2 separate regions of the Homo sapiens genome follow, and region 1 is linked to region 2. The links come from fine-mapping of genetic effects on gene expression. Tissue or cell type: lymphoblastoid cells. Region 2 holds a variant in brackets; the other region holds the start of a gene. All regions are shown on one strand. Distances are between the middles of the regions.

Evidence for each region. PIP is the estimated chance that this variant, and not a neighbour inherited with it, causes the effect. A credible set is the group of variants that fine-mapping cannot tell apart.
Region 1: MROCKI starts here. The variant in region 2 is the best candidate, but not a certain one, in a credible set for the expression of MROCKI in lymphoblastoid cells (TwinsUK, PIP 0.81).

Annotation. Positions count from the first base shown.
Region 1 is chr6:113,870,459-113,875,854 of GRCh38, forward strand. MROCKI (MARCKS cis regulating lncRNA promoter of cytokines and inflammation) reads right to left here and starts at 2,889. Exons shown (of 3, transcript NR_038863.2): 1 at 2,536-2,889; 2 at 211-276. It overlaps LOC124901382 (a long non-coding RNA gene), which reads left to right and starts at 2,947. Exons shown (of 3, transcript XR_007059716.1): 1 at 2,947-3,365.
Region 2 is chr6:113,848,168-113,853,563 of GRCh38, forward strand. No RefSeq gene overlaps it. Among named protein-coding and RNA genes, the nearest start is that of MARCKS, 6.5 kb to the right of the region's middle. The variant G/GTA (reference allele first, on the strand shown) is at 2,251.

The DNA of each region.
Region 1 (5,396 bases), 22 kb after region 2:
GGAGCCATTGGATGAGGCAATAGATCATCTAAAATAGGTAACATTTGAATAGAATTAAGGACTTCTGGTGAGATTATAATGAAAAAGAAGCCTATAGATTAAGGTCAGATTATACAATATTAATTATTAACTGGAAAAACAATTATGTTAACAATGCCATTTTCCTCCAGTGTCTGAGGTACTATCTAGCTAGTTCATTACTTGGCTTACCATATACAATGAATGTCTTTTTTTCCTTTTCTCATTTGCTTCCTGATATTTTGAAAGCATGAGTTACTGCCGGGAAACAAGGGATACAGAAAAGACAGAGAAATGTATTAAGTGACAGTAGAAGACAGAGGAATGTATTAAATTACAGCAACTGCATATGTTTAAAAATTTTCAGAACATTTTAAATGAGAATTTTTATGTTAATTTAAAAAATTAGTTGCTATATAGCTTCTAATTTAAAATTTTCACATGGTCTAGAAGCAAAATTTACTAGAACTCCAGTGATGAGTTTATTTAAAACAAACAAAAAATATACCAATACTAGTTTATTTTCCAAACTATAGTGAGAAGTTGTTATTCATATATCTGGATTTGAATTATACATTTTTCAGCATTCTTACCACAGCACAAAGATTTTTTTCATGCTTAGTAATGTTTAGTGAACAGGAAGGACTTAATATAACAATCAGTAAGAAAGAATTCTAGCTTTCTAGCTGTAGTATTATCATATGAAAAAGATTTTTTTTTCCTTGAGACAGAGTCTTACTTGCTCTGTCACCCAGGCTGTAGTGCAGTGGTGCCATCTCAGCCCACTGCAACCTCCACCTCCTGGGTTCAAGTGATTCTCGTGCCTCGGCCTCCCAAGTAGCTGGGATTACAGGTGTGCATCACCATGCCAGGCTAATTTTTTTTTTTATTTTTAGTAGAGACAAGTTCTCACCATGTTGGAAAGGCTGGTCTTGAACTCCTGACCTCAAGTGATCTGCCTGCCTCAGTCTCCCAAAGTGCTGGGATTACAGGCATGAGCCACCATGCCGGGCTTGAAAAATATTTTCTGTAAAGCATTTCTACCATAACTTCTTGAGACTTAAAACAGAGAAAAACATATTCATTGAGAAAATGCAGTTTTGATTTTTTATTGTTTAGATCAAGAATACGAACATTGAAACCAATTACTCATAAAGGGTGCTTCCTCTAGACCTTCTTATTGTCCTGAATTCCTATTTCATTAGCAAAAGTACATTTACATGAAATATATATATATATATATATATATATATTTCATATATATGAATCTGGCATAAATATGGATGCATACTTCCCATTATTAAAATTAGAATTCTTTAAACAAAACAAAATTTTCCTCTATTTTCAATTCTTGTCACTTCTGCCATTTGCTGCTTGAAGTCCTTAAAAAATATTATGTCTTCTGAATGCTTTCTAAGACTATAGAGAATATTGGTTGAATGAGGTTTAGAGTTGGCTAAAGGAGGGCTTTTTTGACCAGAAGTTGATTCTCTGAAGTTTTTTGTGTGTCTTTAACTTGTTTTTTTCCACTGATTAATCTTTCATAGTATGTAGTTATAATGGTAACCATCACGTACATCTGACCTACAATAAAGAAGAAAATGGACAGAAAAAAGATTATTAACTTTTCTTCCTTTTTTGTTCTTCTGTAGGTCTCATTCCTGTCAGTTAGACTTGAGGTCATGCTATTTCCTGTTGGGGTCACGAGGATGAATTAGTGATTAGACACTTAGGTGCTGGACTCAAAGGGACCTGGCTCCATCACATGCAAACTTTTTGTAAAAGAAGGTACATTGTTTTATAATGTGCGTTTTTGGTTGAATATTAAACTAAAACTTGAGAGCAATCTAGCTCAGGTAGACACTGGTGTCCTGAAATCATTTGCAATACATTTAAACTAAGATATACTAGATAAAGATATTAAAACAAAAGAAAAGGTTTAGATTTTATTCCATATTTCATTTATATTTTTACCAAACACCTATTGAATATCTAATATGTTCTAGGGAATGGACTTGGATCTAGAAACTTAAGAGTGAATGTGCAAATGCCTAGAATCTGTTCTGGTAAGAAATTCACTTCAGTAAAAAACAATACTAATATTATCAATAATAATCCATAATGTGATTTTTTAAAGCCAACTCATTTAATCTATTATATCTATATAATAGATTAGATTATAATCTAGACTGTATAATCTATAGTCTAGATTATAGACATTTAATAAAAACAAATTGAATTTTGTAAAAAAAGTACTTAATATACCTAGTAAAGTTTTATATGCCAAGTTTGTATTTTAATAATATTTTTATTTTAATAAATATCAGGAAGAAATAAACATAAAACATAGGAAGTGCATGTTCAGGTTATCTATTGTCATATTACAAACCACCTGAAAACTCAGTCGTATAAAACAACAATTATTTTTAAATTTTTGAACAGCTTTATATATAATTGACATATAATAAACTGCACATTTTAAAGTGCACACTTTGATAAGCATACATAGGTACACACCTGTGAAACCATCGCCAAAATCAAGATCATGACCGTATCCACAAATTTCATGATTCTGTAGGTCAAGGATTAGAGCAGCCATAAGCAGAGAGTTTGTCCCTGATACACGATGTTTTTGGCCACAGCTGTAGTTGTTTGGATAGCTGGGGGCTCCTGGGATGGCTAGAGTGGGATCATATGCCTGGAGTCTTCATTCTTCTCCATTGGATGTTTGCTGGGATGAGAAGGTCCAAGATAGTCCTTTGATAATGTGTCGTGGTGCCTGGGCTGGGATGGCTGAAACACAGGAGACCTAGCAGAAATTCTCTATACTCACCGCCATCTCCGGATAGTCAGACTTCTCACTCGGCAGCTGGCTTCCCCCAGGTCCGAAGTTCAAGAGACTTTCAAAAGACAGGAAGTGAAAGCTGCCAGTCTCTTTCAGCCTGAGCCCGAGACACTGGCACAGTTTTACTTCCACTATGCTTTATTGGTCAAAGCAGTCTCTGAGCCCACCCAGATTCTGGGAAAGAAGGACATTGACACCACCTCTTGATGAGATAATGTCAAAGAATTTTGACCATCTTTAAAGCACCACAACGCATGTTGGATATTCTATATTCCTGAGTGAAAGAAGACTTCAATTTGGTCACATGAACAAACTATTTCTGTGTTTTACAAGGGCAATAGTAGGGAAAGGAGGTGGTAGTAATATCAGAATTTCCATCAACTCTTCTGTCTTCGTTGCTGTTTATCAAGTAATGTTCTTCAAACAAACTGGAGTTGCTATGCCTTGATATGGTATAAATGAGTGTGTTTTGGATACAAATACACATGGTAAAGGTAATATGGTAAATACCATTGTTTATTTATATTATTTATATTATATTTATATTGTTTATTTATATTAATGGTATACTTTAGCCAAGTAAGTTTTTATCAAGATTCCAAAATATTATTGAGACATAATCAATTCAGTAAAAAACTATTTGAGATGGACACATCGGATTCTAGTGATGTTACTCCCCCAGGGTCTTACCCTATTGGGAATCTATTGTATAACTCACATATAACTGTACCTTTGGCCAGGCGTGTTGGCTCACGCCTGTAATCCCAGCACTTTGAGAGGCTGAGGTGGGTGGATCAATGGGTCAGGAGATCAAGACCATCCTGGCCAACATGGTGAAATCCCATCTTTACAAAAATTAGCTGGGTGTGGTGGCACACGCCTGTAATCCCAGCTACTCGGAAGGCTGAAGCAGGAGAATCGCTTGAACCCAGGAGGTGGAGATTACAGTGAGCCAAGATCGTGCCATTGCACTCCAGCCTGGTGACAGAACAAGACTTTGTCTAAAAAACAAACAAACAACTGTACCTTTATAAAAATTCCATCTTTTAAAAGTCTATAAATGGATCTGTTACATTTTAACAAACTACTAGAGGTAATTTCAAATAGATCACTTCAAATTTTCTGAATAAATATAATCTGTTGTGAGGATAGCATCTTGAAGAAATGTTATCAAGCCGTGGTAAAAATATATCTTTCCTTATATGTTCAACCACCATGTGAAATGTGTGAATCTAGCATAAAATGCAGTAAAAAAAAATTTTTTTTAAGTCAGTGAAATAAACTAAGTAAATTTTTCAAGAGAATGTTTTTATTGTGATCTTTTGAGTAGCACAAGGGAAACACAAAGTATAAATACGGTTTTTATACATGGAAAGGGGACACGTGACTCATTTAAGAGGAGCTAAATAATTATTAACAATTGTTTGTATTATTTAAATATTTGTTCAATGGCAGTGGCTACTACTTGTAAAGAAAGAGATACCCCATATCATCCTTTTGGATTCCACTTAACCATAAATAGTCATCTTGGTGGCCCAGTGGCCCTTGTTTCATAAATTTCTCACTGTACCACCATCCTAAAACATCTCTTCTGGCTAAAGCACACAGGAATGCAAAGAAGGAAGATAGACTCTTTATGAGTGCACATGTCCTTGCATACCTGTATTTCTATATCAGGGAGATCACAAAGAACCATTAAAAATGTAAGCCATTTGGAACACTAGAGCTAGAGGAGTGGCCAGATGGTAAAGATCTTGATCATATAGTACATCTGAAGGTGATGTATAGGGGCAGGAAGTATCTGCCACAGAACAGAGTTTAAGGCAGCGACATTCCTTGGGAGAGAAGTGGCAGCACTAAAAACAAGCAGTGAAAGCACCACATTTCCTTTGTTTTGGGTATCTTATACCTTTGGTTACTGAATGCTAAAGTCAAATCTCACGTCTGTTTCTTTAAGAAGCTCATGTCAAGATTTTTATTATTATTTTTTATTTTTTACAAGGTTATATCATTTCCATGGAGTTGGGGGATCACGTAACCAAGGTGAAAAGCAATTAAAATTAATTATTGTGATAGAGGTTAAGCTAGGTTAAAATACCTACCCAACCATCAACATTCCAGACTTCTAATGGAGATCTGTGTGTGCAGGGTGGTAAATAAGGGTTTGGCGTGTGGGGTATTAATTAATTAGCATCAGAAGAGAGAGAAGTCACACATGGTAGACAGTAAATATAGCTGGAGAAAAAAGACTCAAAAATATTTCTGTATTGCTGAGCCTTAAGTTCTAGAGTTTCAAACATGCTTGTTCAAAATGTAGCTTCTTTGTTCGTGGTCAACAAATTCCTCCCAGATGATGTCAGAAAGAGTGCCTTTATCTTTGGAACCCAGTGCAGGCCTAAAGTTTATTTCATATGGTATCAATACTTACTGAGAGTGTTTTATATATGATCCATTGTGCTAGGTTTTCAGGACACAGCCATGAAAAAGACAGGTTTCCTGCCCTTGAGAAGCACACAGGCAATAGGCAAGATTT
Region 2 (5,396 bases):
TGTAGTTGGGATTTTAAGCAAATTATTTAACAGCCTTATAACTGGGAATTCACCTAATTGATCTAATTGATCTCTGAATTTACTGTGGCTATTAAATGAAATAATATATACAATAGTGATTGAAATTTTAAAACTGTCAAGTATTTACACCTACAATCAAAATGTAAATCAAATTCCAACTGTAGCCTTAATGGAAGAATGTCACATTTTCATCACTCCCTACATTCTCAGCCATGAGTCCCCTCCATCCCAGGAATCCTTACAGTTTTCTCACAGTGGCACTGTGAAGGGCTGTACCTTCTTATCTCTGATCTCATCTCTCAGCCACATCTCACATCTGGATTCTCTTTCCAACTGTAACATTCTCTCCCTTTCTCTACACCCTACTTTACCTACATTCCAAAAAGCTTCACTCTGCTCTAAGCAACACTCACACTTTTGCCCCAGGAAAGGTAGAGGTAAGTTTTTGGCACAACTTAACCATTTATGTTTTTATTCAGTTGTCCAAAAATATGTTTTGTGATGACAATATTCTGGATAAAGTTACTAAGGATGTTTCCAGATTCAAGAATCTGACCTGTCAGATTCTGTTTGTGTGTGTGTGTGTTTCTTTGAATGCTAATTCCCACCTTGCAGATGTAGCCCTAAATACTTCTCTTACAACAGATAAAGTTTAATATTTAATATATTTCAGACAATTTTTAGTGTATCTTGATCATTTTTGTAACCTTCACAAAAACTAGAAACATCCCATAAAATTCTTAACTTTATCTGAGGCAGTATGATATAGTCAGGGAAACAGCGTCACAGCTTTGGAATTATCAAGAGCTGGACTGAGAACCCAGTCCAGACCACTCTCATGAGCAGCATAAACTTGAGCATGTTATGTTATGCCTCAGGGATTTGATTTACAAAGAAAATGGGAGTAATGGTTTCTATTTTATAAGATTACTGTAGGGATTCAAATATGTAATGGAGGCAAATCACTGTATGCCAGTGCCTGGTATAAAGTAGGTACTTAATAAATATCTGCTGAGCAAATGAAATCCTTCCCAGTCATCTCATCACAAAACCTAATAGAGTGTTGAAGGCACTGAAAAGTCCGTCAGACTGGAGGGGCCCTTACTAAAGTTCTACTTTAGCAGTAGCTTAATAAAAACTTTCTATTTATTGATTGCAACAAGTTATTTCTAAGAGTTTAATACATCTTTTTCTAAAAGTGCATTGTTATTTGGAATAAAGATAAGTGTTTGATTTTATGCTTTAATTTCTAGAACCATAGATTAGTTCAAATAGCTCATTTCAGCCACTGTTTAAGTCTCCTTTTTAATATCAGAAAGTATTTATGACTAAGGAAGCAATGAAAAATTGCCCCTTGTATGGTCCCTATACTCATCATGCTGAAGATTCAACTTTTTCTATGTGAATGTTTTACCTCCACTTCTGGTCCGCCAGTTAAGAACAATGAGAAAAGTGACTAGGTAACTCTATAAGACCAGGAACCTGATCGCCTGATCCTTTTAATGAAAACTTTGATTGCTTTTCTTTATTTACTTGCCTCTTATCTCTGAGAACAAAGTTGGAAAGGGAATTATCCCCGTGCCCTCCCCAATCTTCCACCTTCATTCCATTCTTCCAAAAGCTTATATGGAAAGTTTTCAGCCTGTCCCTGGAGGATAAATATTGCAAATTTTGAGAAATGCTACTATGGTTAAGCTTTGATTCAAAATTTCTGGAGAAAACTTTTTCTTTAAAGATTTTCCTACTTTTTGTTTATTTGTCTCTAATATTAAGTCCTACTTTTTGATTACTCTTTCAAATATTAAAAAATCTTGGCCAGGCATAATGGCTCACATCTGTAATCCCAGCACTTTGGGAAGCTGAGATGAAAGATTTGCTTGAGCCCAGGAGTTAGAGACCAGTCTGGGTAACATAGGGAGACCCTGTTTCTACAACAAATACAAAAATTAGCCAGACATGGTGGTATATGCCTATAGTTCCAGCTACTGGGGAGGCTGGGGAGGGGGTGAGAGGATCATTTGGGCCCAGGAGTTAGATCAGCCTGGGCAACAGAGCAAGACCCTGTCTCAAAAAAAAAAAGAATATATATATATCTGAGTGTGTGTGTGTGTTTGTATATGTATATATATATGTGTATGTGTGTATATGTATATATATATGTGTATGTGTGTATATATGTATATATGTGTGTGTATACATATATGTATATACATGTGCATGTGTGTGTGT[G/GTA]TATATATATATATGTATGGTTATTTCAATTGGTGTGCCTGAATAGCAATAACCAAAAAATACACTCTTCTTTATAGTGGTTTTGTAGTGATCACCTATTCCGACCATGTGGAGATCTAACATGCCAGAAACATCACTCCTGTTGTAGATGTGTTAGTTCTTGATTCTTCAGACAGATAAGCAGTGACTCTGATGTTTCCTAATTATGAAAGAATCTTTCTATTTGAGTACTACTGGATAGTTAATAAAGAGCACTAAAGCAAAGTCTAAAAGTAAAGAAGCTTGCAGTTTTAGTATCAATTTTAAAAACTAATAAAGCTCCTACTACAGGCTGGGGGCAGTGGCTCATGTCTGTAATCCCAGCATTTTGAGAGGTTAAGGTGGGAGAATCACTTGATCCCAGGAGTTCGGGACCAGTCTGGGCAACATAGTGAGACCCTGTCTCTATTTTTTAATTTAAAAAAAAAACTCCAACTACATATAAGGTTCTGTGCCTATTACAACCATTTGAGCTCTTATTGGATTCCTAGATGGCAGATAGACTTCAATGAACAACGGCTAACACACTATTGAACTTTATTTTCCAAACCTTCCTGAGCATCAATTTCCAAATCTGTAAAATGGGAAAATGATACAAGTTCAGGTTCTGTTGGAAGGGTGAAACACAAGCCTAGCGGACTCACACAGTGCTGTCCCTGGTACAGAGTAGGTTATCTTCCCTCCCTCCTCCTCTTTATGTATATCTGTATGAAATAATATAGGATTAACTGACATTGTGCTTTGTAATAGCACTGTCTTTTAATCTATATTCTATTTTTGTGCAAATATTGACTTATAGATATAACAAAATTGGGCATAGGTTAAAAGAGTGAATGGCTGGTAATATTAAAGAGGATGTAGAAAGATATATTTGATATATTGATTAAGCATCCTTGAGATTTATCAACCTCAAATGGGCCCTCATTACTGCTCTAAAGTCTTACCATGCCCAAAAGTCTCAATCCTATGCCTCCCAGTCATTATTCCACACCTTCTATAAGGTCATCAAACTGCAACTCTCCCTTTTCTTCTTTCCTCTTAGCTGAATAGAAACCATCAGAGGGAAACTTTCTCATCTTCCCACCAGCAAATCTATAGCCATCCTCTTGTTCTCTCATTACAGAATATTTTAAAAAGCAGAATGTCTTTTAAAACCCAATTTTTCAGCATGTGCCCTATATCCCCATCCCTTCCTGCCTTCTCAGAAATGTTTTTCCATTCTTTATTCCTTTTCCTCTTGTATCTTCATTTTCCTTTCTACTGTATTAGTTTCCAGATCAGTTAAATGTGCTCTGATGCCTTCCATCCAAGACAGCATAACACAAGCCAAAAAAACATTAAGTGGGTTGAGCATTCCTTATCTGAAATTCTTGGGACCGGAAGTGTTTCAGATTTCAGATTTTTTTGAATTTTGGAATGTTTTCATATACATAATGAGATATCTTGGGGATGAGAACCCAAGTCTAAACACGACATTTATTTATGTTTCAAATATACTTATAAACATAGCCTGAATATAATTTCATACAATATTTTAAATAATATTGTGCATGAAACAAAATTTGTGTACATTGAAATTTATGTACATTGTGAAAAAAATTTGTGTACATTGAACTACTTTAGTACCCTTTGTGGTGTGCTTGCATGGGGGAATCTGGACGTGCAAAGAAAACATATATTGCAGCTGACAGGGGCTGGGGGGATGTTTTTTCTCCTTGGAGACACTGAATAAACTGTGTGTCATGTATGTGTGTTTTTACCATGACCCCTCACATGAGGCTAGATGTGGAATTTTCCACTTGTGGTGTCATATTAACACTCAAAAATTTCAGATTTTGGATTTCAGATGTTCCCATCAGGGATGCTCAACCCGTCCCAGCCCTCTCCAGCTACTGCCTTGTCTCCCTAAACCTTTACTGAGTCCAGCTTTATAAAGAGGTGACTATGCCATCATCTTCTTCATCTTCCATTTTATCCTCAACACACGAAATCCAGCTTCCACTCTCAACATACTACAAAAACTGCTCTGGAGCCTGTATCCAGTAGTTTCTGTCCTACAACATGCAATGGAAACATCTCAGTATTTCATTTGAACACTCAACAGCATTTGACAAAACTCACTACTCCTCCTTGAAACACTGTCTTTATTGACTTTCCTGACCCCACACTCTCCTGGCTTTCTGTCTACTCTTTGAGAATTCCTTCTCAGTCTTCTTTGCCATCTTGGCTCCTTTTCTACGGATCCTCTGAGAGCAGAAATTACTCAGGGCATCATTCTGTAATCTCTTATCTTTTGCATTTTCCTGTGACTTGGCTTCTAAAAATATTTTCATGTGGAATGATCACAAATCAGTATTTACATTCAAAACTGTAGTTTGAACTTCAGACTTACATCTGTGAACTTCACTCTTCTACTGAGACGTTTTACAGGAATCTGAAAATATGTTCTAACTCATCTCTCTACCTTCCTCCCAAATCCATGCTGAACTCTTCCTCCTCATGGGCTTTGCTATTTCCTCCATCTGAACACAGCTCTTCACCTCTTTACCTGACTAATGCCTACTCTTCCCTTAGGTTCCCACTTAAATGTTACTTATTTCAAAAGGCCTTCTTTAACCCTCCTAATGAAATTATACTATCTTATAGCACAAAATAGAACTTCAAATGGTCACATGTACTCCCTATTTTCGTTAAAAGTACATGTGACGGTTTAAAGTTATATTTCAGTCTGTGATCTCATTGTTAAATGCTGGCTTCTCCCCTCTCTTGTTAGGCTAGAAGCATTTGAGTGAGCCATCTGCATTATTAATTCCCTCACCTCTTCAAATCTGCTCGAAGTTTGTCTTCTCAATGAGGCCTTTCCCGGCCTATATGGAATTACATCTCAACTCTCCCCTGAACTCCCATCTCCCTTATTTTGCTTTAGTTTCCCCCACCACTCCACCTCTCCCACAACACTTACAGACTTCTAACATTTCATATAATTTGCTGACTTACATTTTTTTAACTTGTGCTTTTCTCCCCACCCAAGAATGTATGCTTTATAAAGACTTCTTGTCTGTTTTGTTCACTGACATATCCCAAATGCCTACTACATGATAGGAGTT